2 linked regions of the Homo sapiens genome follow. The main gene of each other region encodes a partner of the protein of the gene in region 2 in a complex. Each region holds a gene or a part of one and is shown on either strand. Other genes may lie near its edges.

What was found.
Region 1: STK26 (region 2) and STRN4 share a complex: the UniProt entries of both Homo sapiens proteins name them as parts of the core of STRIPAK complex.

Annotation. Positions count from the first base shown.
Region 1 is NC_000019.10:46,720,227-46,732,667, reverse strand, and holds part of STRN4 (striatin-4), read left to right. Parts: intron 1-1,794; coding exon 1,795-1,936; intron 1,937-3,890; coding exon 3,891-4,050; intron 4,051-4,660; coding exon 4,661-4,774; intron 4,775-4,976; coding exon of another isoform or gene 4,977-5,121; coding exon 5,122-5,216; intron 5,217-7,019; coding exon 7,020-7,195; intron 7,196-7,288; coding exon 7,289-7,336; intron 7,337-7,739; coding exon 7,740-7,861; intron 7,862-9,383; coding exon 9,384-9,554; intron 9,555-9,717; coding exon 9,718-9,858; intron 9,859-10,327; coding exon 10,328-10,426; intron 10,427-10,595; coding exon 10,596-10,682; intron 10,683-11,896; coding exon 11,897-12,066; 3' UTR 12,067-12,132; intron 12,133-12,329; 3' UTR 12,330-12,441. UniProt on the Homo sapiens protein: Calmodulin-binding scaffolding protein which is the center of the striatin-interacting phosphatase and kinase (STRIPAK) complexes.
Region 2 is NC_000023.11:132,048,861-132,061,301, forward strand, and holds part of STK26 (serine/threonine-protein kinase 26), read left to right. Parts: intron 1-4,862; exon of another isoform or gene 4,863-4,921; intron 4,922-5,770; coding exon 5,771-6,001; intron 6,002-12,441. UniProt on the Homo sapiens protein: Serine/threonine-protein kinase that acts as a mediator of cell growth. Modulates apoptosis. In association with STK24 negatively regulates Golgi reorientation in polarized cell migration upon RHO activation.

The sequences.
Region 1 (12,441 bases), on a different chromosome or scaffold from region 2:
CAATTGTCAGTTAAGCAGAACAAGTGAGGCCACGTAGGTGATGCTAAGCACGATGGAGACCACGAGGGCCAATATGTGCTCCTCTGCAGGGGGTGGGCAGGGAGGGCCTCTGTGGGCATTAAATGGAGGGTAAGCCACACGAGTGGCTGGGAGGAGAATGTTCTAGGCAGAGGGCACAGTGAACCCCGAGGTCCAGAGGCAGGAGAGACGCAGCCTGCACAGAAGCAGCACGAGGCCGGCATGGCCGCAGGCAGTGAGGCGTGGGCTGCGGGGAGGTTGTGGTCTCAGGAGTCAGCCACTCAGGGCCTTGGGCTGGGATAGAGTCTGAGTTTGACTCAGGGTTGTGGGAAGCCAGTGCTTTCGAGCAGCGGGGTGACATAATCTGACGTACCTGATCCACTCTGAGAAGGAGAGGTGTGGGAGGGTCACAGAGGAGGCAGGCGGACCAGTTAGGAGATGGCTCGATGTCTGGGACAGAGCTGATGGACTTTAGCGGTGGTGAGGCGAGAGGTGTCAGCTTCCCCAGAGGCTTTCAGGCAGTCGACACTGAAGGACTGCAGCTAAGGGGAGAGGAAAAGAAACGAGCGACTCCAGGGTTTGGTGTGAGCCATTGGAGCAGCATCCCCTGAGACGGGGAAGCCTGGGAGTGGAAGTTCTGGGGGCCGCCGAGGTTGTGTGAAGTGTGAGGGGCCTGTTTACCCCCATGTGGAGAAGCAGAGCTCGTCTGGAGCTGCGGGGCATTTGGCCCCTAAACATAGGTCTAGTTGAACAAGCACATGGGCATTCTTTGGAAAGCCATGGCCGTCTGCAGTGCCTGCAGGAGTGAGTGTAGATGACGCAGAGAAGAGATCTGGGGACTGCCCGGGTGCTCTCCCACTTAGAGGCTGGAGGGAGGAACAGGAGGAGGAAGCTGAGAAAGAGGCTGAGCCTGTGCGGCGTGTCAGTGTCGTTGTGGGAGGAAGGCCGGTGAGAATGGAGTCCTGTGTCCCGCTGCAAGTGCAGCGAGTGTTCTGAGGATGGAGTGGAGCTCTGGTGATGGCAGCCGTGAGGCGAGAGGGTACATCTGCAGTGACCTCTGCACCCGTTGGTAACTGGCAGTTGACAAGACCTCCAGGGCATCAACCTGATGGCAGAAAGGGGGGACGTTTTCGTCGATCTGCACTTGGAATTGCACCCTGCCTTCTCCCGCAGTCAGGCTGGGTCAGTACCTCCTCTGCTATAACTTGTCATGAAGTTGGAAGCCAGGAGGTGGAAGGAGGAGTGCCATCTGTTGCTGGGGATAGTGCAGGCTCCTGGGTAGCAGGGATCGCCGGCGCCCCTGCTTGCGCGAGGCTGGCTGGCTTTCGGCGCCTCCCAGAGCATTTGTAGAATGGCCGGTTCCTCTTTCCTGCAGGGCGTGTTTGCCTCCTGCCTGACCTGCCCTTGTGGTCTGACTGGGCTGTGGGAATGGGGACTGCTGAGTCAGTGGCACTTTCTCATCCAGCTTTCCTTCTGACTCAGCACAGGATGGAGATTTGTGACCAGGGTTGGGGGCTGGCCCTCTGAAACTCAGGTCGGCGGTCATTGAGGAGCTGGGCCCCGTTTGCGGTCTGAGTGAGGCTTCCAGTTGGAATGAGCATTTGTTGGGCAGAGGCTGGGGTTGGGGCTCTGTGTGTGACCAGAGTCAAGGCTGCTCAGGGGTTAGGGGGTTAGCTGGGTCTGGGCTCTGGCCACCAAGCCTGGGAGGGCACCTTCCTATCTGAGCTTTGACACCTGCCAGGACTCATGCCTCCTCTGCTCTGCTGTCTTTGGCAGGAACGCGGCAGGCAAAGATGGCAAAGAGCGCTTGGGCGGCTCAGTGCTGGGGCAGATCCCCTTCCTGCAGAACTGCGAGGACGAAGACAGCGACGAGGACGATGAGCTGGACAGCGTGCAGCACAAGAAGCAGCGTGTGAAGGTGAGCCCTTCCTCCATGCCCTGCACAGCCTGGCCTGGGTGTGACCTGATCGAAGCCCTTCCGAGTCAGCCTGGGCCTTCAGGGGCTGCGGTGTGTGCTGGCAGCAGGGATATGGAGACACACAGGCCCTGGCCTGGAGGAGCTTGTGGCCAGCAGCGGCCTTGTAAATAGTCATGTGCAGAAGGACGCGTTGTGGTGGAGGCAGGGGCATGTGCCTATGAAGGAGGCACCTGTGGCAGATGGCCTCGGAGCTTTCCCTGAGCCCCGGGCTTCCCATTAGCGGGTCCCTTTGCCTAGGTCCCCTTTCTTTCCTCCTTTAGACTCAGCTCAGACACCCCCTCCTCCAGGAAGCCTTCTCTGACTCACCCTGGGCTCCCTTCCCTGGCCCTGGCCACTCTGGGGTCCTCCCTGTCTGGTCTGTATTCCTCCTGACCTCTCCCTGGGAGGGACTGGGCCTGTGTGGGCCTCCACTGCATCTCCAGTATCCCCAGTGTGGCTCAGCACAGAGTCGCACCCCAAGTAGAGTGGTGTGCACGGAGCCGCAGCACTGCAGGAGGCCTAGAGGAAGAGCAGGAGGGCTGAGTCCAGGGTCTCAAATGCTGGCCCCTGGTCCAGACGCTTGGTCCTTCCCACCCCTCTGAGAATTTCTAGTCCTTTTCCACCCCTCCACCCATTCCATCAGGAATCATCCGTGGTGTTTGCACCCCTTCGGGCCCACACCCTTGGGCTGGCTGGTTGGGTAGGGCTCTCTGTCTCTACGCAGCAGCCCTCCATCGAGGCCCAGCTGGGAACCCAGGGGACTGCCCATGGCTCCCAGGGGGCCCTGGCCCAGCTGCGTGAGTTCTGGCCCACACTTCTTTGTCTTGGCTTCAGTCTCCTCACCCTTTAGATGGGGCTGAGTCCCTCCGTCTGAGTTGTTGAGGATTTAATTAGAATGAGCTGGTGCCCAGGAAGCCCTCAGCTGCATGGTGGCTGTCCCCCAAGTGCTCAGTAGGTGTTAGTGGCGCTGGTGGCACTTGGTAGTGGTGGAGCCCTCATGGTTCCAGGCACTGTTGGCAGAGCACAATTGCCACTCGTGTGCCCCTCAGAGCACCTGTGGTGGTTCTCTCCTCTGGAGTCCTGAGCCCGGCCGCTGCCTTTCTGGGCATGCTGTCTAAACCCTCCCCTTCCCCATTCTTTGCACAAGTGTTGAATAAACCTTGGCCCTAGGTCTTCTCCATGCCCCTTCCCTCTGGTCCCCCCCATGCAGGTCAGAGGCTGGCCCCTCACTGGTGCCCGAGAGGTGTCGCCAAACTCAGCCTGGGGGGCTGACATGTGGAAGGGGTCAGCCACGCCCTGGAGGAGTTCACAGTGGGCAGAGCTTGGCCTTGGTGACCTAGGGCAAGTGGGTTCCTGCTGCTCAGCCTGTCTCCTGGCCTGTAATGTGGGAATGATAATGACAGTGTTCACGGTAGCTGTTCGCAGGGTTGGGGGTTAAGTGAAGTCGTGTCTGCGAGGGGTAGTCAGTGGTCATTCAGTGAGTGGAATTTGCTCTTGTGCCAGCACGGCTGCTGGTGCTGTGTTTATCGCTGCAATGCTGTGGTCCATTCATCCTCACTTGTTTGCACCTCCGTATATTCACACACGGACACCAGTGCATATCTGCCCTCCCTGCAGGCAGATTGTTGCATTATCTGACTTTTCTTCATCCGAGGCACCTTGCTGGGGGACTGGAGCAGGCTGAGCCCTGGCTAGGGGAAGGACTGCGTGAGGGTGGGGTCAGGCCGACCGGCCCTAGTGGTAGCAGCTGTCCAAGGCCCAGCAGGGGGCGCTCCAGGGCAGCTGGCTGGCGGCTGAGGCAGCCCCATGAACAGAAACGGGCCCAGAGCCCCGGCTTACCTGTTCCTAGGCACGGAGGTGGCTTAGTCTCTGGACAAGAGGCCCCCTGACTTGTCTGGCTTTCTCCATGTGCCAGCTCCCATCCAAGGCTCTGGTGCCCGAAATGGAAGACGAGGATGAGGAAGACGACTCTGAGGATGCTATCAATGAGTTTGATTTCCTGGGCTCAGGAGAGGATGGGGAAGGGGCTCCAGACCCTCGGCGGTGCACTGTGGATGGGAGCCCCCATGAGCTGGGTGAGCTGACGTTTTCTGGCCAGCCCCCGCTTGCCTTCCCCACCGAGGGGGTGGGAGCAGGCTCAGCTGCCCGCAGCTGCTTCCTGTACAGGGTCTCTCTACCGGACGGATATGTTTCCTGAGAGGAGGGTAGCCAAGGAGAGCAGGAGGCCCAGGTCATGGCCGCCGGCCCCTCACCCCTTCCCTGGAAAATCCCCATGGAGACGCAGGCAGTCCTGGCTCTTCCTGAAGTGGGGCCGCCAGCCCTCCAGGGCGGGCGTCCAGCTCTGGCTGGCCTCAAGGAGGGAACAGGATGAGGACCCAGTCGGGGAGAGGCAGGTGGGAGGGCCGCATCTTCCTCCCTGTCCTGTGACTCCTAGCTAGGAGGGCTCTCAGGATACGTGGGATGGGTGGCTGGGGCCTGAGGCCTAGGCAAGGCAGTGACCTGCCCACTGCCCCACGGAGGGGCCCAATCAACCTCCTCTCCTCTGCCCATTCCCCCCCTCCCCCAGGGCCAGAGCTTCACAGCCCCACAGAGTGGCAGGGGGCCCTCAGTGTGGGGAAGGCGTCACCTATGCCAGACTGGGTTGGAACTGCTGGGTGACTCCGGCCCTATGCCTCGACCCTGCAGAAAGCCGTCGGGTCAAACTCCAAGGCATTCTGGCTGACCTGCGGGATGTGGATGGGCTGCCCCCAAAAGTGACTGGCCCGCCTCCTGGCACACCCCAGCCCCGGCCACATGAAGGTAAGAGGCACCCCCCACCTGGTCCCAGTCCTGCGGGCCCATGGCAGAGGGAGGCTGCAGAGCTGAGCCCAGGGCTTCTGTGTCTTCAGGGTCGAGGCCCAGCCTCCAGTCTGCAGCCTCCCTGCCCCAAAAGTTCGTCTGTCTGTCTGTCTCCCTCTCTTTTTGTCTGTCCTGCCCTGTCTGTCTCTCTGTCTCTTTCCAGCTGTGATTCTTCATCTTGTCCTCTCCCCGTCTCTCTCTCTTGCTCTTTATCTCTTTCTCTGCCTCTCTCTGTCATTCTCTCTCTCCCTGGCCCTCTCTGCCCCTCCCTCCCCTCCCCCTACCAGGTTCCTTTGGCTTCTCCTCAGACGTCTTCATCATGGACACTATCGGGGGCGGGGAGGTGAGCCTGGGGGACTTGGCAGATCTCACCGTCACCAACGACAACGACCTCAGCTGCGATGTAAGTTCTCCGGGTGCCCCCCACACTGTCCCCATTGGCATTGCGCCCAGGGCCAGCCCCTGCAAGCTCTGACTGGGTGCCGCCCGTGCCCTGCTCATCCTGTTTCACAGAGGGGTGCAGATGTAGACAGTGGAGGGACTTGACTGCGGTCGCCAAGGCGCAGGGCCTGGAAGACTCTGGAGCCTGTGTTTTAATCACAGTTCCACGGCTCCTCCACTCTGCCCCTCCCACCCTGGTGATTTGGAATGCAGGAAGATGACCTGTAGCCACCCCCTGCTCTGCCAAGTCAGGCCAATCTAGTGTGAATGGGCAGCTGGGCTGAAATGAAATGTTCCGGGCCTCAGTGGACGGGCCTCTGGCCATCTGGGAGCCTTTGGCCAGCTGGGAGCCTTTGGCCAGCTGGGAGCTTTTGGTGTGGGTGTATGTGCACATTTTACTGTGACAGAATGGGATTTCCAGTGTTGGTGACCCTAGTAAGGCTGGGTGGGGACTGCTGTGAGATTCAGGAAGGGGGGTCAGAGCAGAGGCCTGAGAAGTGGAGTGTGCCATGGGGTCCCTCTGCACGCCCCAAGATGTCATTTCATCTTGGGGAAGTGCAGTGTTCTGAGCCCCGCTAGGGGAGGGGGTGAGTGAACCACACAGTAGCAGATCCTCTGACCCTAAAGAACTGTGGCAGAAGGGACAGCTAAGGCAGGGACGTCAGCTGGGAGCCCATCTTGGGGCATGGTGCTGAGGCTTGCCTGGTACTCTGCTCGTCATCTCTCCGGAACCTGGCCCTCTCCGGGTCCCCTGCTGGGTGAGCGGCACCAGGGCGCATGCAGCGTGGTGGACAGAGGCCCCCACAGCTCTCCCACTTGTGCACTGCCTCCCCTTCATGGTCACGTGTCTGGTCTCCATGCCCTCATCTCCCCTGGGACTTCCTGGCCTCTCAACCTCTTTCTCTGAGGCTACCTTTTTTTTTTTTTTTTGCTCCTTGAGGGGATCTCCCTATGTTACCCAGGCTGGTCTCGAACTCCTGGGGTCAAATGATCGTTCTGCCTTGGCCTCCCAAAGTTCTGGGATTACAGGCGTGAGCCACTGTGCCCCGTCTGTGGCTACTTTTACCTGCCCCTAATCTGAGCCTCTCAGGGGTGGCAGGAACAAGCCATGTCGTTCCCCTGCTCTAAACACTTCCCCGGCTCCTTGTTTCTCTGAGGCTTTTTCTTAGGATGAAATGCGCATTCCTCCGGGGCTCACCACCCAGCACCTGTCTCATCCCCTGCCACTCTCCTTGCCTCCTGCAGCCTGTACCACTGACCTCTCAGGCCTGGGCTCGCCCTTGCTGCCTCAGGGCCTCTGCACGGGCCCTTTCCCTCTCCAGGGCCCTCTCCTTATCTTGTGAAGTCCTGCTGGCTCGTGCTTCCTCAGGAAAGCCTCAGTGGCCCCCAGGGAGGAGGGCAGGCTGCCTGATGTCTCTCTGTGCATCTTTAATTCATTGCCCTGCTCATGGCTGATGATCCTGCACACTTGTGGGATGGTCCAGTTGTGTCCCCCATTCCCCTTCCTCTCAACTGCAAGACCCCAAGGGGTCAGGCTCACCTTTGTCTCTCCAGAACCCAGCGCAGTGTGGGGACTTGTTGGGCGAGCATGGAGACTCTGCCCAGCAGAGGAAGGGGAGAGTTCCCGGCTGGAGCCCAGGCTCTGAGGGCATTCCTGCCAGGGTCATGTGGGTGGAAGACAGGGGCCCTCAAGCCCTGGGTGTCGGTGTCTGCATGACTGCTGGGATGGATGCGAAGACACTGAGGCAGCTCCCCCCAACCCCAGCTGTCTGACAGCAAAGATGCTTTTAAGAAGACGTGGAACCCCAAGTTCACCCTGCGCTCGCACTACGACGGCATTCGTTCCCTGGCCTTCCACCACAGCCAGTCGGCTCTGCTCACCGCCTCCGAGGACGGCACGCTCAAGCTCTGGAACCTGCAGAAGGCGGTCACGGCCAAGAAGTGAGGGCAGCAAGCTCAGAGCCGGGGGCAGGGGCATCTGGGGACGGGGGTGACAGGGTCTCAGTGACATCAGGCTCCTCTGTCATCCCACAGGAATGCGGCGCTAGATGTGGAACCTATACATGCTTTCCGGGCTCACAGGTAGGGAGGTGCCCCTGAGCCTGCTAGAAACTCGTCCTAAATGCAGCCTGACTCCTGACCTGCTCACTGCCATCGCGGGAGGCCCACGGCAGGAGGCAGGACAGCAGGGGGCTCTGAGTCCCCGCCCCCTTCATGATATACACAGCCCTGGTTCTTGGGGCTCCATGCTGACTTTCACATGCCCTGGCAGCTGGTACTCAGCACAGCCCTTCAGGGGAGGAGATGGAGGTGGGGTGGGGGAGGGCAGGGGACAGGCAGCTTGTCCAGGTAGCATGGCCAGAGCCCCAGTCACTGAATTCCTTTTGGCCATCCTTGAAGAATGCTAGTAGGGAACTTAGGTCCTGTGGCCAGGGGAGGCCCTGAGCTTGTCTCATCCCCCTTTCCACATATTTGTCCCTTCCAGGGGCCCAGTGTTGGCTGTGGCTATGGGCAGCAACAGTGAATACTGCTACAGTGGCGGGGCAGATGCCTGCATCCATAGTTGGAAGATTCCAGACCTCAGCATGGATCCCTATGATGGCTACGGTGAGGACAACGCCTCCCGCCTTCCCCTCACATCCACTGGGGCCTGGCCGTCCCCTCCACGCACACACACGTCGCGTCCACCTCTTGCCAACACTGCAGGCCTCAGGAGTGCGTGTGACGGCTCCCCTGTCTGCTCTGTTGTGAGCAGCGCGATGCAGCGCGTGGCCAAGGGACGAGCCAGCCGGGATGGGAATGATGGCTGTGGGAGGAGGTGGTGAAGCTGCCTGAGAATCTCTGTGAGCCGGCGTCCAGAAGGCAGTGCTGAGGCAGCCCAGGCTGGGAGCAGCCCATGCACAGGCGTGGCTGGCCCTGGCAGCCTCTGCTCTGCCATGCCGTGTACTCTGTGTGTGGGGATCCGCCAGGGTCTCTGCGTGGTTGAGGGGAGGGCATGTCCAGAGAAAGCAGAGAAGGTGGAGTTAGCTGGGCCAGGCTGGAGCGCGTTGGGGCTTTCTCTTTGGAGCATCTAAGACCTAAGTAGGGAAGTGACCAGACTGTCACTTCTGTTCAACATCTGTCCCCCTGTTCTCTGCCTTTTTTTTTTTTTTTTTTTTTTTTTTGAGACAAAGAGTCTCACTCTGTCACCCAGGCTGGAATGCAGTGGCGTGATCTTGGCTTACTGCAACCTCTACCTCCTGGGTTCAAGTGATTCTCGTGCCTCAGCCTCCCGAGTAGCTGGGATTACAGGCACGCACCACCATATCCAGCTATTTTTTGTATTTTTGGTAGAGACAGGGTTGCACCACGTTGACCAGGCTGGTCTTGAACTCCGGACCTCAGGTGATCCACCCACCTTGGCCTCCCAAAGTGCTGGGATTGCAGGCATGAGCCACTGCGCCCGGCTCTGCCTCCTTGATCATGCACCTGGCCCTGTGCTCCACCTTGTCTGGGCAGAGTTCAGAGGTCTTTGTCTCCTCTCAAGGGGAGGACAGACTTTAGAGAACAGGCTCACCTGCACAAGGTCAGGATCGGTCCCAGCTACATTAGCCACCACACTTTCGGTGTCAGCAGGCCAGAGCTGCTGGTGTGGACTCCAGCAACCAGGGAAGCAGTGATTGGACCTCTGAATGACCAGGGGGCTTTGGAGAGACCAGGCAAAGCCCATGCACTTGGCCATGGGCTGAAAAGACTGCTCGGGCCAGGGTTGGGACCAACCCTTGTCCAGCACAGGCTGCGTGCCGCTCCTGGGGCCACAGAACCATGCTGTTCCTTCTTCCTTAATGGAGCCCGAAAAATTCTGTATTGAGCTCCCAGTTTCTGGGCCCTGCTTGGGGAGACAGCTGTGAATAGAGGGAAATCCCTGCCTTCTGGAGCCCTAGAACCTTCCTTGGAGAGCTAGTGGGCAGTGTGAGCAGCTGCCGGGCTGTCCTGGCAGTGGACAGTTCCGAGGGGCACCAGGTGTGAAGTGGGTGCGTGGGTGATTGGAGCCCAGCTGCCTGGGGCTTGGCAGAGCTGGGGCTCTGGGCTGTCCAGGGAGGAGCTGGCAGCCCTGACACAGCCCATTTCCTCCCTGCGGTGGGTGCAGACCCAAGCGTGCTGAGCCACGTCCTGGAGGGCCACGGGGACGCCGTGTGGGGCCTGGCCTTCAGTCCCACCTCCCAGCGCCTGGCCTCCTGTTCTGCTGATGGCACCGTCCGCATCTGGGACCCCAGCAGCAGCAGCCCGGCCTGCCTCTGCACCTTCCCCACAGCCAGCGGTGAGTGGGGGCCCCGGTGCCTCACCCTGGAGCTGTGCGGGATCTGGAGGCTATCAGAGTGGTTCCTGCTGAGGCCCCAGGCCTCCCACCCACTGTCCCCCACCCTGGGGCAGGGCTGGGTCTGAGGGTCCATTCAGCAGCCTTCTCTTCCCTGTGCCCTCAGAGCACGGGGTCCCCACCTCAGTGGCCTTCACCAGCACCGAGCCTGCCCACATCGTGGCCTCCTTCCGCTCTGGCGACACCGTCTTGTATGACATGGAGGTTGGCAGTGCCCTCCTCACGCTGGAGTCCCGGGGCAGCAGCGGTAAGGGGGCTGACATCAGCTCATGGAATTGGTCTCAGTGTCTTCTGGGCCCCACTTCCTCCTGGGGCTTTGGCGACCCCTTGTCAGTCAGCTCAGATGACTCCCCTGCACCCTCAGGCCCTGAGCAGGAAGGAAGTTGGGTCCCAGTGGAGGGCCCCCGGCCCTCACAGCCAGGGCACTGGCGGGGCTGAGTGGGGAGAGCGCGTCAGGGCCGCCCCGTCGGGCCCTCTTGGTAGAGTGGCGGAATGTGTTCATGTTTGTTATTCCTCTTCCCCCGCCCCAAAACAGGGCCCAGGGGCTGCTTGTGCAGAACCAGCGCTGCGGTCGGGGACCGGAGTGCCCTCGCCCAGCCCCCCTCGACATCCAGGCAGAGGCTGGTGTAGGGGCTGTCACGCTGCGCTTGTGCCTCTGTTCTGGTCTTCCTGATTTTCTGCTTGACATCCTTCCCTCTTCCTGCGTTTTCCTTCAGGTCCAACCCAGATCAACCAAGTGGTGAGTCATCCAAACCAGCCTCTCACCATCACCGCCCACGACGACAGGGGCATCCGCTTCCTGGACAATCGGACAGGTGAGGCCTAGCCCCTTGTGCTCGTAGTGGGTGGGGAGGGCCAGAGGCAGGCAGCAGAGATGCTTGCGTCCCTGTGGGAGGCTCTGGGAGTCTCTCGTCCAGTCCTTTCACTCTCTCAGGCGAGGCCCAGAGTGGGAGGGGAACCTGCCACCCGCCCTTCTCGCCTCAGGTAAGCCGGTGCACTCCATGGTTGCACACCTGGACGCAGTCACCTGCCTAGCCGTGGACCCCAACGGCGCATTCCTGATGTCAGGAAGTAAGTTGAGCACACTAGTCCCACCAGGGTTGGGGAGAAGGGGAGGAAGAGGCCTGGGCACTGGCTCCAGGCAAGTGCTCAGGGGGCCCCGGGGGCCAGGGCTGGGGGAGGCTGGTCTGGGCGGGAATGACCGTGGTGACCATAGGGGGCAGCACAGTCCGCTGGGGCCCTCCTCTGGGTCACTGGAGCTGCATCGTCTCATTCGGCCTCTAAGCAGCCTGTGCGGTTGGTACTTTGATCCCCAGTTTACAGATGTGGGCCCTGATGCCCAGACGCTTTGTAACTTGGCCATTGAAGCTCTGTAACATCAGTCCAGGTCTACCTGGGGGTACCCGTGGGACTTCTGTGCTCCCACCCTGTTGTCTCTGGATAAGGGCATTGAGGCCAGCAACGTGGCTGTGCTTAGAAGGGATGGAGTGTGACGTGGGTGGGTGGAGAAGGAGACTGGAGGTCGCTGTGGGGGTGAAGGGTGAGGCCTGCAGTGAGTGCAGCAGTGAGTGTGTGTGCACAGAGGCGCAGGCCGTGGTGTTGGAGGCTGTGGCTGGGCTCTGCCTCCGGGCCTGTGCTGGCAGCCTCTGGTGGGTGAGGGGCTGGTCAGTGAGCTCCAGCCCAGTGCCCAGACAGGGCTCTATTCTGGGGGCCACTAGACAGTGGAGGGAGCTGAGCCTTTGCCCTGCCTGATCCTCTTGACCCTAAATTAAACTTCTCCTCGCCAGGGCCCTGCCCAGCCTGCCGTCCTCTCCCCTCTTCTCCCCAAGTCCCTGCTAAGGCTCTTGTGGCCACCCCCACCTCCTGCCTCAGGACCTTTCCCGCCTGTCCTTCTGCCTGGAAGGCTCCCTGCATTCCTCCTGGGGCCATTCTGTCCTCACACTGACCGGCTGGGTTGCTTTCTTCTTTCTCTTCCTGTTGCCCAGCTGCAGCGTCAGTGCTGCGGGGCAGGGAGAGTTGCCTGTTTTGTTCACTGCCCCTGCCGCCCTGGGGCTCAGTGTGCAGTAGCTGCTCAAGAAATGCTGGGGGATGAGATGGACTGTGGACAGGAGGGGACCAGGGTTCTCCTTTGGGCGGGCCACAGGAGGTGATGAGCAGAGGGTGAGAGAGGAGAGTTGAGCCCCACTTCCCCTGAGGCCTTTGGACAAGGCCAGGTGAGGGGTTCCAGGGCTGCGTCTGAGCGAGGAGCCCAGTGACCACCCCTTCTGTCCCCGACACATGTGCAGGCCATGACTGCTCCCTGCGTCTCTGGAGCCTGGACAACAAAACGTGCGTGCAGGAGATCACGGCCCACCGCAAGAAGCACGAGGAGGCCATCCACGCTGTTGCCTGCCACCCCAGCAAGGCCCTCATTGCCAGTGCTGGCGCTGATGCCCTGGCCAAGGTCTTCGTATGATGCCCACCTGGCCCTGCCCTGGCCGCCACGCTGGCTGGGGTGTAGGGCCGGGCAGGTGGGGCTGAGGTGAGGGCAGAAACCCCGCATTCTGAGTCTCTGCACGCCCATGCCTAGTACTGCCAGGTGTGCTGAGCCCCGCAGTCCAGTCAGGGGCGTCCTGTGAGAATCACTGGGGGAGCCCTGGGCATGCAGGGGAGGGGTTGAGGCCTTAGAGGCGCCCTAGAGGCGGCGGCTCAGTCTCCCCTCCCTTCTCTTTCCCGCAGGGGACTCCCAGCCTCGCTGGAGGTGCAGAGGCCTGGCCTCTGTCTGTTTGCCATGGAGCCTGGTGGTGCTAACGGCCCTTTCCCCAGGAATCCCTCCCCAACGGCTGCCTTC
Region 2 (12,441 bases):
CCAATTGTATATGGATTATATCTGGCACTTAAAAAAGATAGTGTCCTGTTTTCTCGAACTCAGCACTGGTAAGAGTTATACGGCTGTTGACATTAAAATTCTGTTTTTTGTTTGTTTGTTTGTTTTGTTTTGTTTTGAGAAAGGCTCTCACTGTGTTGCCCAGGCTGGAGTGCAGTGGTGTGATCATGGCTCACTGTAGCCTCGCCCTTCTAGGCTCAGGTGGTCCTCCCACCTCAGTGTGCTGAGTAGCTGGGACTACAGGCACGTGCCACCATGCCTGGCTAATTTTTTGTATTTCTTTTTTAGTAGAGATAGGGTTTCACCCTGTTGCCCAGGCTTGTCTTGGACTCAGCTGAGCTCAAATGATCCACCTGTCTCAGCCTCCCAAAGTGCTGGGATTATAGGCATGAGCCAACTGCACCTGGCCTAAATCTCCTTTTTTTTAAAAAAATGATATCTTGATTAGGAAACATTCAGCAAACATTTTAGGCAATGTTCATAAGGGCAAGTGAAAAATCTTAACACAGGCAATCATAATAGAACAGTAATTTAATTTGAGGCTCATAAACCAACTAGAGAATGACTTTTATTTATATGCATTCTGCTTCTTAGATGACAGGAAACTGTATATACATGGAAGTAATCCAGAAAAACATTTCGTCTCTAGCCTGGGAGAACTGATTTGATCAATTTAAACAGGTAGCTAAATATCTCTAGTTTAGTACATTGTTAGGCTGAAGTTTTTAGTTGCTCTCTGTGATTGTCAGGGCACTTTGTATTCACTGCAAGTCACTCCTGGTGTTCCCACTTGAGGACTTCAAGGAAGTAAGAAATCTTCTTTTAAGCCTTGATATCATTAGCACATTATTTGCTCATTATTTCCTGTAACACTCCTCCTCATCAATGAGTCACTGATAGGCCTATATACAGGCCAGTCTTTGTAAAGTGCAAAAAGTTATTTTATAGCTACAGCATTCATAGTATGGGCTTTATTAATGTAGGAAGGCAGGTGCAAAACAATTCAACCTTACTCAGCTTGGTTCTTAGTTCTGGAAGATTCTTTTAGGATACGTGAGTTGAATCCTTCCAGGTCAAATCCTGTGAGAAATCTGCCTCCTCTTCCTTACATCTATTATGTTTTCACTCTCAGTCCCAGAGTCTTACTGGGGGTCTTAGTTAGGTAGTTCAAATTCAAAGAACTAGATTCTTTACCTTGGTTCTTTCCCACATTTTGCTCTCTAGGTCCCCATTCTGCGAGAACTCCAAGACTAATTCTAAATCCGTCTTCAATGTTCTTGTTTCTCCTGGCCACCAATTCCTAATGCCCCCCTCCACAAGTTGACCCATTTTCTACTAACTAGATCTAAAATTTTATCCTTCATCAATGTTGGCTGTTATCCTCAAAACTCTGTCATCAGTCACATCTTAACCTATTATAGGCCCTATCGACAATACATAGACTATATTGGGTATAAACAATGTTTAAGAATATGTATACAAAGTGTACGGGATATGTTGCTTGTGTTTTGACAAACATTATGTTTCTAATCTTGAGTCATCCCTCGGGATTCCAGGATACCTTCTTCTGCTGTGTATACCAAAATTGGTGCATACTCAAGTCATGCAGTCGACCCTGCGGAACCCACATATATGAAAAGTCAGCCTTCCCTATACATGGGTTTCACATTCTGGAAATATTGTATCTTTGATCTGTGTTTGGTTGAAAATAAATTCGTGTGTAAGTGAACCTATACAGTTAAAACCCATGTTGTTCAAGGGTCACCAGTGCTAATTTTAGAGACATATCCTTAGAAGAAGTATTGCAGACTTCATTTTTAAAAATATAGGTATGTATAGTAAATGCCAAAGTCCTCTTAGTTTTACTTTAATCTCCAACTTGTCCACTTTTAATGTACAGAATTAGATGAGACCCATATGCTTGCCTGGGAAAAATAAGGATAATGGGTTCCCTGTAATCAAGGATACAAATTTCACATCCATCTGCTTAGTGGTTCCCAAGTGCTGATGTCGAGACTAGTGTTCAAATGACTACACAGGAATCATTTGGGGTGCTTTTTCAGAAGTATTGGTTGCAAGGCCCCAGTCTCAGTAGGCTGAATCAGTAGTTTTGGGGTAAAGCCTAGGTATCCACATTTTAAAAGTGATATAGGTAGTTCTAATTTATAGCCAGGATTGGAGAGCACCTAGAGAACTTGTAAGAGTTCTTTCAGCTGTCTGTTTCTGTGGTTTAAGTATCCAAGAAGGCTTCTTCTATCTGCTCCTTACTTTGCACAGGAGACAAGCAAGATGTTCACCTAACATTGTTTCCTTTTGGACTTCTTCAGAGTATTTCCATACTAAATAGTTGTTGTTGTTATTGTTGTTTTAGTGGTAATGATACCTTCTGAATAAGACTTAAATTTCTAACAGTGTACTTATAGTTGAAGAGTGCAAATTCAAGTTAAATAACAGATAAAACAGGGCCAAGGAATAATCTGATTGCCCTGAGGAGGTGGATCTTTGAGGTTTTCATTTTCGTAGCCCTGTTTTGGTATGGCACGCGGAAATCATCTGTCATTAATAAGTCAATATGAGCTTAATTTAGCAGTTCCTCCTATTTGACACTACAGAACATAGAGCTCTTTTTTTGGGGCAGCTTTGAGAAGGCAATACAAATGCAGATAGAGTAATAAATTGTGATTTTTGCAGTAGAGGTAAGGAATATTTAGCCATTTCAGTATTTTTTTATTATTATACTTTAAGTTCTGGGGTACACGTGCACAACGTGCAGGTTTGTTACATAGGTATACATGTGCCATGTTGGTTTGCTGCACCCATCAACTCATCATTTATATTAGGTATTTCTGCTAATACTATCCCCCCCAAGCCCCCACCCCCTGGCAGGCCCTGGTGTATGATGTTCCCCTCCCTGTTTCCATGTGTTCTCATTGTTCAACTCCCACTTATGAGTGAGAACATGCAGTGTTTGGTTTTCTCTTCTTGTGTTACTTTGCTGAGAATGATGGTTTCCAGTTTCATCCATGTCCTTGAAAAGGACATGCACTCATCCTTTTTTATGGCTGCATAGTATTCCATGGTGTATATGTGCCACATTTTCTTTATTCAGTCTGTCATTGATGGGCATTTGGGTTGGAATTTCAGTATTCTTAAAAGAATATTTGATTTGGATGGAGAGGGAGCTGACTTTTCTTAGAGGTTCCAAAGAATGATGGGAATGATTAGGCAAACTAGATTCTTTGTTTAGGTGGCTTTTAATTGCATTCCTTGGGATGCTTGCTATTTATTTACTTGATCTTTTCTCTTGTGCTAAAAGCAGGAAGGAAACCTGTCTTAATAAAGACTTAGGATACTTTGGTTTAAAATGATGAAGGGGAAATTATAACTTTTGTATTATCTATCAGGGATTCAAGATTAGTAAATGGGGCAGGGGTCTCTATCCCTTAGCTAGTTAGGGAAGTGAGGTTATATTAGTGAAATCTTGTTTTCATAGTTCCCTCCACTCTGAAAGTTGGTGTTTTGTAGGAGCATTGTTAGATGCAAAATAAAAGAGTAGGAAGTGCAAACATTGTATAAATGATGGATCTTTCTCTTTTTCTGTGTCTAACTTGCTATTCCTCAATTTAAAATCTTAAACTATATCCATGGATTAGAGTTTACTTCAGTGCTTCTTTAAAATGCAAAATGTGACCTCGTTTTAAAATTTTTGATTTACATATTTGCAAGAACCCATTTATTGTAGGAAGCAAGGAACAGCCATATCCTCCCTGAGGTTGACTGTTTGAATCAAATCCTTTTAAAACACTAATTAGGAAGTTTAAGTGTTCATTTTTGTTCTTTAACAACAGAAGATTCTTGTTATAAAGTTAATGAATACATACACTTCCCAGAATGTCTTATCAGAAGATATATCCTATGTATCTTCAAATAAATGATACATTCCCAAATTTTAGAATTGTTTTATAACTGTATCAGGAAAACAGAAATATTTTTTTCTAAAGGAAGTTATAAGGAGGTGAACCCATCACCAAGCTATGTAGTAAGTATTTTTTCCACAAGGTATTACAAAGCCAAGGACCATCACCAAAAGTAGGAAGAGGTAACTGTGGGTTAGCCACTATGTATTAGTAGTCACAATGAAATACAATGTCTTGGTAAAAGAGGACACCAAGGAAATCAATAATGATGGCACTCAAGTTTTTGAGAAGGTATTATAACCAAATATGGGCATTAAAAATGCATTTGCAACCTACTGGAAGCCTAAGCTATTTTTAAAAGCCCATATGGAAAGCTCAAGATGTGTTTGTTCCATGTGGGTACTGGAGGTGGGTGGGGATACACAAGTAGCTTGCAGTCTCAGAGACTTCTATATGGAAAGCACAACTTTTAGAAATGGAAAAAAATCCAATCAGAGAGAATGGGGAAGCTTATAAGGTAAACAGGTCATGTACAAACTGTATTTTAGGCTGTGTAAAAAGAGAACTTGGTGAAATTCTTTAAAAGCAGTCATGAGTTTTGGAGTTACCTCAAAAGGTAGTGGTTTACTGGAGTAGTAGTGTGTCCATTTGGTGATCATGGTGCAATGAACTTGATAAGAGAAAAGCAATATTTTCAATGCCCTCTTTGTCTAATAAAGGAAGATAAAAGGGACATGCTAACTCCATAATTGTCTTCTGAAATTGATGATGAAGTGAAACTAAGTAAAACTGTAGTAAATGAACAGCTATTCTAGGTCCAGTTAACAAATTAGACATGATAGCTCACCAGAACTTGATAGAATCCTCTTATATTTTGAAGGAACTCAAAGTTTTTGATTAATAAAGCACTTAATGTGCTTTTGGCAGGGTTGGCAATCTTGAGTTTCTACTTGATCAGCAGTATATTTTCAGCAAGATGAATTTAAGTAAGTATATAAAGTTTGTCTTGGGGTAAAATTTTAATTCAAAATTGTATATTATAAGATACAGAATATTTCTGAATCAGGAAACAACAGTGAATTTATAAATCTACGTCATGCCTATACATTTGTTAACCTTGAAAGCCTATGCTTATTCCAGATTTTATTGTAGTGAAGTGTTAAATTATTCTGGATCTTCACTGTGACATGAGTTGTGAAAAGTTCAATGTGTTACCATTTTCTCATGATTACTAGCAATTATTACAAAGGTATAGAATCTTAGTTCAGCTATTGATGATAAGATTACATATAGATAAGATTCCAACTAATGAAAAACAAAGACCTGTAAAGCCTGGAGTCTTTTGTGGTCTGTGTTATTTAGATGGCGGTTTGGAAGTGTAGCTAAGATGATTGGGATATCCGAGTTGGAGAGAGAGGAGTGTTAAAAGGTAATATTGGCAGAATGTTAGAAACTTAAACAGTTCACCTTAGCTTAGGTTAGATATTCTCCCACTATTGCTACATTTGCATTAATGTGTAAACTGTGTATAATCAGCGGCTTTATTCCAAAAAGTGCCTGATGTTTTGGCATGCACTGGATATATTTGCTGTGTGAGAATGTTTGTGATAGCAGGATCAGCTAAGCTCAGTTAGTGTGTATGATTCACTAGAATATGGACTAGCTGCCTGTTTGGGATTACAGTTGTTCTAACAAAGCACATGTGGGGAGTCAGAGGAGTTTGTATGCTTTTACAAAAATGTGTTATTGTCTTATGTGATTTATTTTCCTTCATTAAAAAAATTTGATTCAAAACATTTGTGTTCTTTCTTTTTCTCGTTCCCCACTCCCTTCAGAATAACATAGCTGATCCAGAAGAACTGTTCACAAAATTAGAGCGCATTGGGAAAGGCTCATTTGGGGAAGTTTTCAAAGGAATTGATAACCGTACCCAGCAAGTCGTTGCTATTAAAATCATAGACCTTGAGGAAGCCGAAGATGAAATAGAAGACATTCAGCAAGAAATAACTGTCTTGAGTCAATGTGACAGCTCATATGTAACAAAATACTATGGGTCATATTTAAAGGTAATGTGTGTGCTGTATTATTTAAGTCATAAGGTATTTTCATTAGAAGTTTTTTAATTCTATTTTTTTGAAAGGCAATGTCTTAAATTAGGATTTGGCAGTCTATGGCTTCCAGGCAGAATCCAGCTCCATTTATAGTGCCAAATAAACCGTTGTTAGATTTAGCAGCTGTATTCTGAATGCATCCCAGTACTCAGCTGCACCCCTTTTCCACACCTGAACTTTTGGTTTGATGGAGGAGCAGAAATGCAGCTGGTCCTGGAGACATCTCCTTTGTCAGGAAAGAGCTATCCCCCTGGGTTTCCAGACACTATTCTCAATGGTCTTAACTGTCTCAACCTCAGAGCTGATGGAACATGTAAGTATGTCACTTATTTCATTGAGTTATGGTAGTTATTTACACATTTCTCTCCCCCACCAGGTTGTGAGCTCCTTCATAGCAGGGAGTTTAGCTTAACCAGTCCTGGTACTTACATTCCTTAGCACAGGGTATGGTACATCTTAAGCATGTGGTAAATATTTGTTAAAATGGAATTAAGTGGAATAACATCTGCCTCCCCCTCCAAATAAAAGTTGGATTTTTACTGGTTCCAGGATCATGGGATTAGCAGACACCTGAAGTTCCAGCAGATGGAGGTGTTACTACATAGCAGAAAACTGGTTGGTAAAACCCAGTGGTCCTTGGGTTCCAGAGTTAGAAGTCAGGATTCGTGTCTGTTGAAATGTGAATAATAAATAGTTGAAGAAAAGCCCCCATGAACTCTAGCTTAGTTTGGAGTTTGAATCATTTTAAAATTAAAATTGTTTATCCTTGTATTGCAGTTTTTCAAATGAAGGCTGTGCTAGATCTTTGCCATTCAGGGTTTAAAAGGAGGGAAGTGTTTGTTGTTACTGGTTGATCTATAGGCCAAAAAGAGCGTATCTATAACTAATTAAGCTGTTGGCCTGCGTAAAAATTAATGCTATCATTTTATCCTCTGCTGACCAAATAAAACTTCGGATATCCATCTATACCTTTACGAAATAACCTGTCTTCAAGTTCACAGATTCTTTCTTCTGTTTGATCAGTTCTGCTATTGACACTTTATTGTATTGTTTCATTTCATTCATTGTATTTTTCAGCTTTGAAATTTCTGAGTTTTTAAAATGATTTAATCTACTTGTTAAATTTATCATTTTGTTCATTTATTGTTTTCCTGATTTCACTTGTTTCTTTGTATTTTCTCGAAGTTTGCTGAGCTTCCTTGACACAATTATTTTAAATTATTTGTCAGGCAGTTTATAAATCTCCATTTATTTGGAGTCAGCTACTGGGAAACTACTGTGTTCTTTTGGTGGTGAGATGTCTCCTTGGTTTTTCATGTTTATTATTGCCTTATGTTGATGTCTCTGCAGTTGATAGAGCAATCGCCTCTTCCAGACATTACAGGTTTCAGTGTGAAAAGACCTTCTTCCTCTGTAGGACAGTGTGAGAGCAATGGCTGGGTGGGTTGCAGTGGTTCTGGCTCCAATGAGGGCATAGGAGTATAGTTCCTGTGCAGCTTTGTCACTTGAGATTAGTGTTGACAAAGATTGCAGGGATCCTCAGTGGTCAATACCTTGGTTGTCTACAACAGTGGTGAGGGCTGTTTGAGGTCTTTGGTGGCAAGAGCTGCTAGGGTCCCCCCAGTCTCTTTTTCTTCCACCAGAGAAATCATAGCCGAGTAGATCCCTTTTGGCATTGGGTCTGCTTGTGGGCCCACTTGAGGTGGCACTAGTGTCTAATGAGTGATGCCCATGGAGTGGCCACAGAACTAAGGCTTCAAGCATAGGCATATCTGGAGGGACATGCTCTGGGGCCCAAGCCAATAGTAATACCAACGTCCTAGGTACAAATACCCCCTACTGCTGCACAGAGCTACAGTGGCTCTGAGGGTGGCGTAGGGCCTAGCTATTTGTAACATCTGAGCTGATGTCTGGAGCATAGGCACGCTCAGAGGGACCTTGTCTCCAGAGCCTGGGATGTGAGCTAGCTCACTATGGCAGTGATTAGCTCAAGTGTCTGAGCTGTGGGTGGGTCCAGTGCAACCACTCAGCTGGTCTGGAGTCCAGAACACAGGCTAGCTTTCAGTGGTGACTGTGTGGATGTCTGGAGCATAGGCACACTCAGAGAAACCTTGGCTCCGGGGCCCTGGGGTGTGAGCTAGCTCACTGTGGCAGTGGCTCCAATGTCTGAGGTATGGTTGAGCTCAGTGAAGACGCAGAATCTGGGTCTGGAGTGTGGGCACTAGTGGAGTGGCCATGACTCAGAGGTCTGGAGCTGCATCAGTTTTCAGAGTGGTGGCTTCTTTCTCCATGTGGCTCAACAATGTCTTCTTCTTGAGATGAGAGAGTTTTGTAGTCATGTATTCCTCTTGGGGTTCCCTGGCAGAAATGGCTGTTGACTACCTCAGTAGCAAGAGATGCCAGTGTCCTCTGCAGAGCAGGCCACTGGGGACCATGATGGCTTCTACTGTGTAGTGATACCAATAGCCTCCACCTTTCATCTTTGTTCCTAGACATTTCCTGGCCTCTCAGGTATGCTGATCTCCTCAGTGATCCTTCCTGTGGAGTTATTCTTTCTTTTTTGCTCCACTGTGTTGCTGCAGATTGTTAAATAGGCCCTTGAATCCTTCCAGAGTTACTTGGGTTTGTGGATAGCTGTCTATATTTGGGGGCTTTTTATGTATATGTGGAGGGAGGGGATGATTAAAACTGGTATCTCCTCTGCCGTCTTGGTGACTTTGTCATCGCTTTCCATCTATCTGTATCTATATTGGTTAATACTGATATAGAAATTTATCACAAATTTCACTGCCTGTTTACAAAACCCGACTTATTCTAATATTGGATGTATGTGGTATGAATGCATAGTAGAATGAATCATTAAGCAGCCAAACAGCCACTATATATTACACACTGTATTAGGTGCTGAAGATATAAAAGTGAACAAACTCACTACTGCTGTCAAGGCACTCACAGTCCAGTTTTGCACTGAAATGATGCCAATTTTATGGTTAAAGTATGTACAAGGTATAGATGATGCACAAATTAGTAAGTAGTCACTTCTGTCCTTTTCAGGAGTGGCATGAATAAAAGGCCTCCAAAAGGAGGTGATAATGCTAGTAATTTCTATCCAATTTCAGCATTTACATCTAAGTGTTAGCTATTACTGTATTTTACTACATACATAATTATTTGCTCCTTTGTGTGATAATTTTGCTGTCATATTTGTTCCTAAAAAGCTAATTCAGCCCATCATATTCTTTTTTAGAGATCTCATGAGTGATTACGCAGTCTCAGTAGTTTTAGGTTCTCCTCCTAATTCCCATACAATTCCTTGGTGGTACATGTGTGTGTGTGCGTGTGTGTGTATGTGTGTGTGTGTGTGTGTGTGTCTGTGTGTGTATCATTTGCTCATTCTGGTTTACTCTTTCTGGACTGAATCCCGGTATTTCCAGACTCACTCTAGGGCAAAACTGAATCCTTGCTACTTTTAGGCACCTGTGACAAAAACACTATTTTTGGTTGCTGACCTAAAATATTAAATACGCCCTATTTAAAATGGCTATTCCATAATATATTGAAAATTGGTACTGATATGGTTTGACAATTTTATTGGTTGCTTATTTATTCATATTCAATACTCCCATGGAAAATGAGTGACAGCTCTATCTTCTTTTCCTAAGATTTCATATAGAGTGTTTTTTAAGTTGCACAGTAGTATACATGTACTAGTCACCCAGTATTTACTTAATCTTTAAATAATTAAAAACTAGTTTTTTGTTTGTCCCAAATTTTGATTGTAAAGTGTACTCAGACCAGCCAGTGCTACAAAACCATCGTCCAAGATAGCTTCTTAAGGGATTAAATCAAATTATTTTTATCTCCTTCACCCATCATTAACTAAACTCTATGATATAAAACACTACTTTGAAGAACATGTTGCTTCATGATAAAATTGTAGAAATGTGCAGCTGGCTTATGTTGATTATTTGTGTTCTGAATCTATTTAAAGTAAATAAATCTGTGTGTATATACATATGTCTTGAGACATATGTATATACACACAGAGAAAGAAATATTCTATAATCTTACAACGTTTTCATACCATGTATTTAAATCACTTTCTTAAATTGACCAACTCATTTATTTTCCATTTATATTACAACATAGTATGACTGTGTGGGTTTGTATTTTTTTCTAAACTAAAATCACGTCAAATATAACAGGATTCTGTTTCATGTAGTCAACATAAGTCAAGGCCACATCCTCTTTGTGCCATCAGGGAACTGTGTTATCAGTCAACTTACATACTTATTGTGGCCCATTGTTCCATTTCAGGTGACATGGAGGATTTTGTGAGTCAAGTTAATTGAGCAAACTGGGAAATGGGTTGTTCTTACACAGGATGTCATCCATAACTAAGACCTCACTGTAAGCTGGAGGAAAAGTTTATTACATTTGAGAGAAAATTATATGTTCTTTGAAACTGTATGCAGTTGTAGTGATTTCCTTGAGACATGCAAAAAATGTACTAGGTATTCATTTTGACTAAGCTCACTGTATAACTTCATTTTTGAAAACAAGAGTTAAAAACCAGACAAACACATCAGTATGACCACAGTGTTTTCCTTTAATTTTAGTTCACTGGGCAGATTTTCTTGACAAAGTTAGTCTTTATGAAGAGTGCTAAAATAAGCAAACCCTTCCCTTCTGATCTCATAATATTGGAATAATCTTTTATAATCTTTAAATATTTTTCTAGTTCAGTGTAAATCTTAAAATGACACTCAGGCATTGAATAGAATTTGAATCATGCCTTTATTTGCTGCTGAAAATTGCCTTTAGATTTCTGTGTATGTTAAGGAAATATTGCCTCCCACCCACCATCACCAGTATTTATGAAAAAAAAAAGAATTGAATGAAGTAAAATATTTCAGAATCATCTGTACGGCTTTGTGGCCTTCTCCTTATTTTTCACTGAAACTGTATGTGCTTACAGCCAGTTTATGTATGCTCAATGCCTCTGGAATATTCTTTTATTGTTAACATTTGTTTTGGAGTTCTCTTATAAAACTTGAAGAAAATGGAGGCTAGAAAGTTTGTTCCTTCTTAAAATGTTCTTTTCTCAAAATAGGAATAGCTTTAAACTTAATATAATACACCTCTAAGAAGCCCCATGTTAGATTCAATTCAACAGACGCTTATTTATTAATGCCTACTATGTGTATTCCTCTTCTTTTGCATATTGTGGTTAATCTCATCTACTTTCGTCTGACAACTTCTAAACTGATGTCTCTGGTTTCATCCTCTCTGCTCAGCCCCAGATATGTGTTTATAACTTGCTTCATATTAATAGCCTGCTTATCTGTGAGTACATCAAGTGCAATAACCCTCAAACTAGGGAGGTAGCATTTGAACTAAGTCTTGAGAATGATTTTGATAGGGGTTGGAAGGTGCAAGTGGGGTAGGGACACAGCATTCCAAGCTGGAGGAAAATGACTCAGAAGTGGTAAATTTTCTAGCCATATTCTTGGCAAGATGATCTCTACTGTCACTTCCAGTTTTATAAAGTCTTATGTGCTGTATGTTTTTTTTAATCAGGCAAAATATACTTAACACTAAATTTGCCATTTTAAGTGTACAGCTCTCTGGCATTGGCTACATTCACATTGATTTTGTGTTTTTTTTGTTTGTTTGTTTTTTGGGTGGTTTTTTTTTTGTTTTGTTTTTTTGTTTTGCTTTTTTTTTGTGACAGGGTCTCACTCTGTCTCCCGAGCTGGAGTACAGTGGCGCAGTCTTGGCCCACTGCAGCCTCCACCTCCCAGGTTCAATTGATCCTCCCACCTCAGCCTCCCGAGTAGCTGGGACTACAGGCATATGCCACCACACCTGGCTACTTTTTTGCACTTTTTGTAGAGATGAGGACTCCCTATGTTGCCTAGACTGCTCTCAGACTCCTGGACTCAAGCGATCCTCCCACCTCGGCCTCCCAAAATACCAGGATTACAGGCGTGTTGTGCAGCCCTCACCACCACTGATTTCCAGAACAAATAAGGATTCCTTATTTTCAGATCTAGAAATTGAGTAGTTGTAATTTTAATGCTTAATGGTATATACTACTTTGTAAAGTCACATTTCAAGCTTTCTATGAACACGTTTTACTGACAGACAGTTGGCAAGTTTCTGTTTTGAATTAGTACAAACAAAAAGGCACACATTGTTTTTAACTTGGAAAACAGGTGCTTTCATTCATGCAGAACTGCAAAATAGGCAGGCATGTTTTATAAGATCTTTTTCTTTTAAATGTCAGGTGAATGGGAAGCTCTCTGAATTCATATGATAGAGTATAGTACTTGTTAGAAACAAACTTGTGGCAGAAGAAACAATTTTTAACCTATCCACCATTGTAAGAACCA